Homo sapiens: one gene and its partner. The protein of the gene in region 2 interacts with the protein of the main gene of each other region in a pairwise test. Each region holds a gene or a part of one and is shown on either strand. Other genes may lie near its edges.

Region 1 (3,744 bases), on a different chromosome or scaffold from region 2:
TCACGGAAGACTCTGGCTCCAGTCACAGACTCTCTCTTCGCCCTGGGCCCTGTGGAAATCAAGGGTGTCTGGAAGTTTGCATGAACAGCCCCCTCAATGCCTGGATGGCTTAGCTCTTGGCCTCCTCCTTCATTTTTCCTTCCTTTCCCTCCTCCCATGTCCACACCCCAGTCCTGGTCAGAATCCAAAAATGAGTCACCCTCACAAACCACCCATCTTCCTCTTTCTGCTGCCCACCTCCTCTTCTCTCCGTCTTTTACTCCTCCACGCCCTGGCACCTGCTCCATGAGCCTGCAGGCTCGTGGCCCTCACCGCCCGTCTGTACCTTTCCACCTTCGCCACCGACGTCCAGCTCAGAGCTCATCCTTCTCACCATTCTCCTGCCAGCATCGCAAACTTCCTCCCTCATCTTCCTTCCACAGTGCTTTCCTGGCTTCTCTGTGTCTGCCTCTGGCTGCTGAGAGCCAGAGGCATTGGCAGTCTGTGGCAGGTTGATGCCATGCCATGTTCATGGCTGCTGACCTCAGCAGGCCCTCGGCTATGCCTGGCCTTCCCGTTTGCTTGTAAGCTTGCTACTCCCAGCAACAGCAGCTCAAACCTTCCCTGCTCTCCCACACTCCAAGCTCCAGCACTGAGAAAGTGAGACATCAGCTGGCACATCCCAAATTGTGCTGTCCTCAACTCCCCGAGCCCAGCTGACTGCCCCCAGCTTCTTGTATTTGGTGCCTACCTCCCTGCTTGGAGGCCTCAGGCTGTGGCATCTGCCTCTCCTGCAGGCCAGGCCTTCTCTGCCCTCCTGGTTTGCCACCTTGGACAAACCCTCCCTTGCCCTCATATCCTCCTCCAGCGCTTGCCCTGCTCTAAGCTTCCCAAGGGACTTGCCCAGGCTCATGGCTGCTCATTCCCTGCCTGCTCCAGCCTGGCTTCTGCCACCACCACTCACTCAGGGATCTGTCTCCACACACTCCAGGACCCTTTCTTGCTTTATGAGACCTTTTAGACTCATGACACTGCTGGCCCCCAGCCCCCGTGAAGCGTTCTCCGCCTGGCATCACCGATGGCTGGGACCTTGGTGCGTTCACCTTCCTTTGTGGTTGCCCTTTCTCATCTTTTATCTGATCCCCAAGAACCGATTTCCCCGTGCTCCTGTCTAGGTGCCATTCCCCCCTCACTCTACACACTTTGGCAGGTCTAGCTGCGCCCACAGTCTCAGGGTTGCCTTGCACCCCCTACTCGCAGAACTGTTTGTCCAGCCTGGGCTTCTCCCTGTGCTTGCAGACCTGCAGACCGTCCACCTGCTTGTCTCACAAGTGCCTCTGGCCTGCCTCAGGACCTTCAAACAGAATGGTTTTTTTTTTTTTTTTGAGATGGAGTTTTGCTCTTGTTGCCCAGGCTGGAGTGCAATAGCGCGATCTCGGCTCACCACAACCTCCGCCTTCCAGGTTCAAGTGATTCTCTTGCCTCAGCCTCCCGAGTAGCTGGGATTACAGGCATGCGCCACCACGCCCGACTAATTTTTTGTATTTTTAGTACAGACGGAGTTTCTCCATGTTGGCCAGGCTGGTCTGGAACTCCTGACCTCAGGTGATCCACCTGCCTCAGCCTCCTAAATTGCTGGGATTACAGGCATGAGCCACCACACCCGGCCCATTTTAACTATTTTAAAGTGTACAATTTAGTGGCTTTTAGTACATTCATGATGTAGTGCAACCATCACCACTGTCTAATTCCAGAACATTTTCATCCTAAAAAGAAACCCCGTACCCATTAGTGGTCCCTCCATGTTCCTCCCTAATCCCCTTAGCCCCTGGCAACCACTAATCTTTCTGTCTCTGTGGACTTGCCTATTCAGGATGTTTCACATAAGTGGGATGATAAACATGTGACCTTTGGTGCCTGGCTTCTCTCACTTAGAGTAACATTTCATGGCCTCTCGTAGTCCGTTAGTTCAGCAGGTACTTGTTGCTGACTGTGGGCCAAGATGGCACAGGATACTGGCTTTTCTGTGGCGGCACACATTAAGTAACTGAGAATGGCTTTTTTTTTTTTTCTCACTCTGTCACCCAGGCTGGAGTGCAATGGCGCAATCTTGGCTCACTGCAGCCTCCACCTCCCGGGTTCAAGCGATTATCCTGCCTCAGCCTCCTGAGTAGCTGGGATTACGGGCGTGCGCAACCACACCCGGTTAATTTTTGTATTTTTAGTAGAGACGGAGTTTCACCATGTTGGTCAGGCTGGTCTGGAACTCCTGACCTCGTGATCCACCCGCCTCGGCCTCCCAAAATACTGGGATTACAGGCACGAGCCATCGCGTCCGGCCTTTTTTTTTTTTTTTTTTTTGAGATGGGAGTCTCGCTATGTTGCCCATGCTGGAGTGCAGTGGCGTGATCTCAGCTCACTGCAACCTCTGCCTCCCAGGTTAAAGCGATTCTCCTGCCTGAGCCCCCCAGCCTCCTGAGTAGCTGGGATTACAGGCGCCTGCCACCACGTCTGGCTAATTTTTGTATTTTTTAGTAGAGACGGGGTTTTACCGTGTTGTCAAGGCTGGTCTCAAATTCCTGACCTCAGGTGATCTATCTGCTTCGCCCCCCCAAAGTGCTGGGATTACAGGTGTGAGCCACCGCATCCAGCCAAGAATGGCCTCTTTAATGTCTGTGAGCTCCCCAAGGGCAGAGACACCCTCTAGTGCCTGGCACCGCCTCCAGGGCTGAGGAGGTGCTCACCAAGTCTGTGATGCAGGAATGAAGCCGTATCCCAAGTAGGGGGCTGCGTCTGCCCAGTTTACCAGTGCGTTCTTGTCACCCAGCACGGGCTGGCCAGCGAGTATCGACACAGGGTTTGCTGAGCGGAGGAATGAGCCCTGCTTTGTGGTGGAGGGGAGCAGGTGGCAGGAAAGCCGGACCCCACTGCCCCTCCCTGACCCTCTCTGCTCTTTTATTGCAGGCAGAGTGTCTCTGGCACAGTTTGCCTTGGCCTTCGTGACGGACACGTGCGTGGCGGGTGCGCTGCTGTGCGGGGCTGGGCTGCTCTTCCATGGGATGCTGCTGCTGCGGGGCCAGACCACATGGGAGTGGGCTCGGGGCCAGCACTCCTATGACCTGGGTCCCTGCCACAACCTGCAGGCAGCCCTGGGGCCCCGCTGGGCCCTCGTCTGGCTCTGGCCCTTCCTGGCCTCCCCATTGCCTGGGGATGGGATCACCTTCCAGACCACAGCAGATGTGGGACACACAGCCTCCTGACTCCAGGAAGAGCCAGAGCTGTGCAGGGAGGAAGGGGTGAGAGGGGGGCCCCCACACCTAGACTCAGTAAGGAAGTCGGGTTGGACCTTAACATCTGCATTGGACAACTCCACCCCTTCCTTGGCCTTGCCCCTGCCCGCCTACACTCCTACGTGTCCAGGGCTTGGGCCGTGACTTAGGCAGAGGAGTGCAGAGGAGGGTCTGGCAGGGGCTGCTCAGGCCGCCTAGCTGCCCCTTTGCCAGGTTAATAAAGCACTGACTTGTTTCTCAGCCTCCCTCCATCTTTGCATAGTTTCTGGCCCCTCACTTTGTTGCTGGGGCTGTTTCTGGGACCCTCTGTAGGGCCTGGAAACTGCAGGATGCCTGAGGGTCTCAGGGGCTGGGGCTCTACCTCCCCTGGCCTGGGTGAGTTGGGGGTGGGGCACCAGCACGCCAAGGCAGTGTCCTACTGATCCAGGCTATGAGAATCCAAACATTCTTTCCCAGGTTTGGCATTTTATAGTTA
Region 2 (3,744 bases):
ACAGAATGTGGGTTATTTTCTAGGTCTCTGAATAAAATACTGGTTATATAGAATTGATTCTGGAGCCAGATTGCCTGCATTCAGCTGCCAGCTCTACCACTGATTAGTGGGGGACTTTGTGCAGCCTGTTTAACTTCTCTGTGCTTCAATTGCCCCATCTGTAAAATGGGGTAATAAATAATCCTTACTTTGTAGAGTTATGGTAAGGATTAAAAGAGTTAAAATGTGTAAAGGGTTTTTAGAATGATGCCTGGCAGAGAGTGCTTGGGTAAATAAGTGTTTGTTGAAAATAAAACAAATCTGCAAATAGTTAACTGTAGTCATTGCTCAAGTCCCTTTGAGTATCGCCTTCTTTGGGACACCTCCCCGAGGCCTCCCCCACGCTAGCTGGCTTCACAGATAGGTCCATGTTGTCGCAGCACCTCCAGCACATCACAGCTGCAACATTCCTCACTGTTTCTGTAAGTCTATCTTTGTAGTTGTCAGTATCTCTCAGCTCATTTCTTAGATTCTTGAAGGCAGAGGCTGGATTTTACTCATTTCTCTCTCCCTGGAATCTAAGTCTTAGTAGGCCTTCAATAATTGTGTATTAAATGGAAGCTTGCTATGATTTTAACCAACACAGTAACTCCAGGCCAGAAAAGGCTAAGCGAGTTCTTCTAAGCCATACAGGTTTTAGTGGCTGAACAAAGACTAAAATTTTTAACCCTGTTCTTCTGACTGCCAAACCTAAGCTAATGACTCGTGTGTGTGTGTATCTGTGTATGTGTACACACGCATGTGTGTGTCCACCAGTATCATCACTAACCCCTGGCCATTTGCTTTTAAAATTATTTTATTCAGAGACTTATACAATAAGTATAAGTATACAATAACCCATGTTCTTTTAGCCTCTTCTGAGACCCTGGGTTGTTTATAATAATAATCACTATTATTCCTGAAGGGAGGCTATTGCACCCTTCCAATTATTCAGACGATTTGCTGACTGTCTGGATAATTCCGAAGCCTTTAACCCCTCCCTAACGTTAGAGGCGGTAACTTTCATCCGTTTACTTTTTCCAGGTGCGGAGGCGAAGCAGCCTTATTCAGAAAATCGAATTCAAACAGGACCTCAAGCTGCCGGCTGTTGCTTCTACCAACTGCCCCATTATTAACGCCAGACGGCGCTGTGTCCTCACTGGCTCTTTAACCACCACGTCGGGCTCACAGAAGGCTCAGGTTTCCTCCAGTATAGTTCAGGGGATGGTGAACGCTTCCCAACAAGCCTGCAACAGGCGCATTTCTTTCTGCTTTTGGTGCGTGTGTGTAGGGAAGTGTCCCATCTTTTAACTAGTCTTGCGGAGACCTGGCCTGGTGTTTGCAAATCTGTTTCCTCTATTATCGATCCGATCTCTGGATTGCTTTTTCTCTGACACTTGAAACAAATTCACTCCTATATATTTTTTAAGTGATTTTTTTTTTTTTTTTTTTTTTTTACAAAATAGAGCTGGGGCGGGGGGGGGGGGGTCTCGCTACGTTGCCCAGGCTGGTTTCGAACTCCTGGGCACAAGTAATTCTCCCACCTTGGCCTCCCAAAGTGGGGAATACAGACGGGAGCCACTGCGCTCGCCCCAAACAAAATCATTTAAATCACAATGCACTGAAGGCCGACTAGGTGTCAGGCGCCGCGCGGTCCGTCCCTTGTCCCCATGTCCCTGGCCAAAGGCTTGCTCTAGATCAGGGGACTCAGCCTCGAGGCTTTCCCGACGGTGTCAGCCAAGCACACACTCCCAGTTCGCAGGGCTTCGTGGTCAAGGTTCCTAGTTCACCTGTCTGGGAGGGCGAGGTGTGTCCACCCCTTCCAGCACCTGGGCAAACAGCTCCCTTTGCGGTCCTCTTCCACTGCTTTCCCTCCGCCCTGATTTTCCATTCCTTGTGAGCGGTGGTTTTGGTTGGGGGGAGGGGGCGGGGAAGGGGCCTGGCGAGGAGGGGCGTCAGAGCGCTGTCACCGGGTGTCGCGCCGCCCTCCCCGCCCCTCCGCCGGGCGTGTGGGGACGCCGGAGGGCGGGAGTCTCCGCGAGCCGCGCGGCGCACGGAGCACGGCGGCCGCCTGAGCTCGGCGCGGAGCCCGGAGCCCGCAGCCGACAGTCTCCTGCTCCCGTACGCTGGGCGCCAGCTCCGGCCGTGCTGCCCGGCTGCCTGAGAGCGCGCCCGGCCATGGAGCCCTCGCACAAAGACGCCGAGACGGCGGCGGCGGCGGCGGCGGTGGCGGCGGCGGACCCCCGGGGGGCGTCCTCGTCCAGCGGGGTGGTGGTGCAGGTCCGCGAGAAGAAGGGCCCCCTGCGCGCCGCCATCCCCTACATGCCCTTCCCCGTGGCCGTCATCTGCCTCTTCCTCAACACTTTCGTGCCGGGACTGGGTAAGACACGGCTGCCGCGACCCTTGCGACCCCCACCCCGCCGCGGGAGGGCGTGGGGGGAGAGAAGGGCGCGGCCGGAGACCTCCTGGCGGGGCCGCGCGCTCCAAGTGCTGCGACCACGCGCCACCGCCCGCTCCTGGCGTCCCCGGGCAGGTGGCAGAAGCGCGTGGAGTGTGCACCCCAGAGGGGAGAGGCTGCGCTGGGGTCTCCGACCCGCAGGCGGGGCCCCAAAGAGCCGGAAACTTTGCGGCCAATGTTGGAGCCCGCAGCGGCGGCCGGAATGGCTCTGCCGGCTTCGGAGTAGGGCTCCCGTCCCGGCGCCCCGATTTCTGCTCCTTCTCTCCGTCGTGTGCATCCGTCCGCGAGCCCACTTCCCCGAGAGGAATGGGGTCGGATCAGAATGAGCTCTAGGGCCTCGGCGGCGAGGATCAAACTCCCGGGCGTCGAAGTCAGCTGAGCCGGGGAAAGAGGACGAGCCGGGCTAGATATACCTGCAGCCCCCTTTGGTTCGCGGAGTGCGGACCGCGTGGGGACGAGAACTCTAGCCAGAGTCTCCTCCGCCTCATTCAGGGGTACCTGCACTTCCGCCAGCACCCCGCAGGGCGCCAGGGGGATGGGGGATGATTTTATTAGTTTGGATGCATGTGGCCAGAGATGAACCCATAGCTCCCTCGGATCCCTTCTGTTCCTGAGAAGTAGAGAGTGCGCCGATGTAATTCTGTGCAGGACTCCGGCAGCCGGCAGGGGTTCTGGTGGCATCTATGTCCCACGTTTTAAAGCAGAGGCCCCTTACAGAGATGGTGCAGGAGGGTGAATGGAGGCAGGGAATGAGAAGTTTTCCTGACCCTCCCTCCCTTAACTCCACCCCCAGGTCTCTGCCTGCACGCCCCTCCCCTCCTCCAGCTTGGCACTGGCTGCTCCTGCGTGCTGGGAGGTGCCCCCCTCTCCCGTGCCCGCCCGAAGAACCAGGCGCCCCAGTGCCCTCTCCGGGAGAAAGCGTGCCCCTGTCGGCGAGCCTGTTGCCAACGTATGGTTCCAAGTTCCCAAGAGCAGAGGCCAGCTGGAAGGGGTTTTCAGTTTGACTTTGGCCTTTCTCACGGTCTCCTCGCTCTTCGCCTGCTTAGCAGGGGCCTCTGCTGCGGTGACAGCCAAGGCCACAGCCACCCACGCAGGACCCGTTCACTTTCCCCTCCGAGCTTACTTGTCTTTCTACCCTAAGGGGCTGCTGCGGCCAGAGCAGCCTATCTGAGCAGTAAGTTAGGTGGCCTTTAGTTGGGCTTCTCTCTTCTGGGGTGCCTCCAGCAGCCTGTCCCCCTGGCTGGTGTCATCAGATCAGCTCTCTTTGC

The links. The genes of interacting proteins can lie anywhere in the genome.
Region 1: the proteins of STUM (region 2) and ZDHHC24 interact in binary tests that used the Homo sapiens proteins (3 or more experiments, as listed by UniProt).

Annotation. Positions count from the first base shown.
Region 1 is NC_000011.10:66,539,024-66,542,767, reverse strand, and holds part of ZDHHC24 (probable palmitoyltransferase ZDHHC24), read left to right. Parts: exon of another isoform or gene 1-2,106; intron 2,107-2,943; coding exon 2,944-3,239; 3' UTR 3,240-3,744. UniProt on the Homo sapiens protein: Probable palmitoyltransferase that could catalyze the addition of palmitate onto various protein substrates.
Region 2 is NC_000001.11:226,546,709-226,550,452, forward strand, and holds the start of STUM (protein stum homolog), read left to right. Parts: upstream 1-2,055; 5' UTR 2,056-2,196; coding exon 2,197-2,398; intron 2,399-3,744.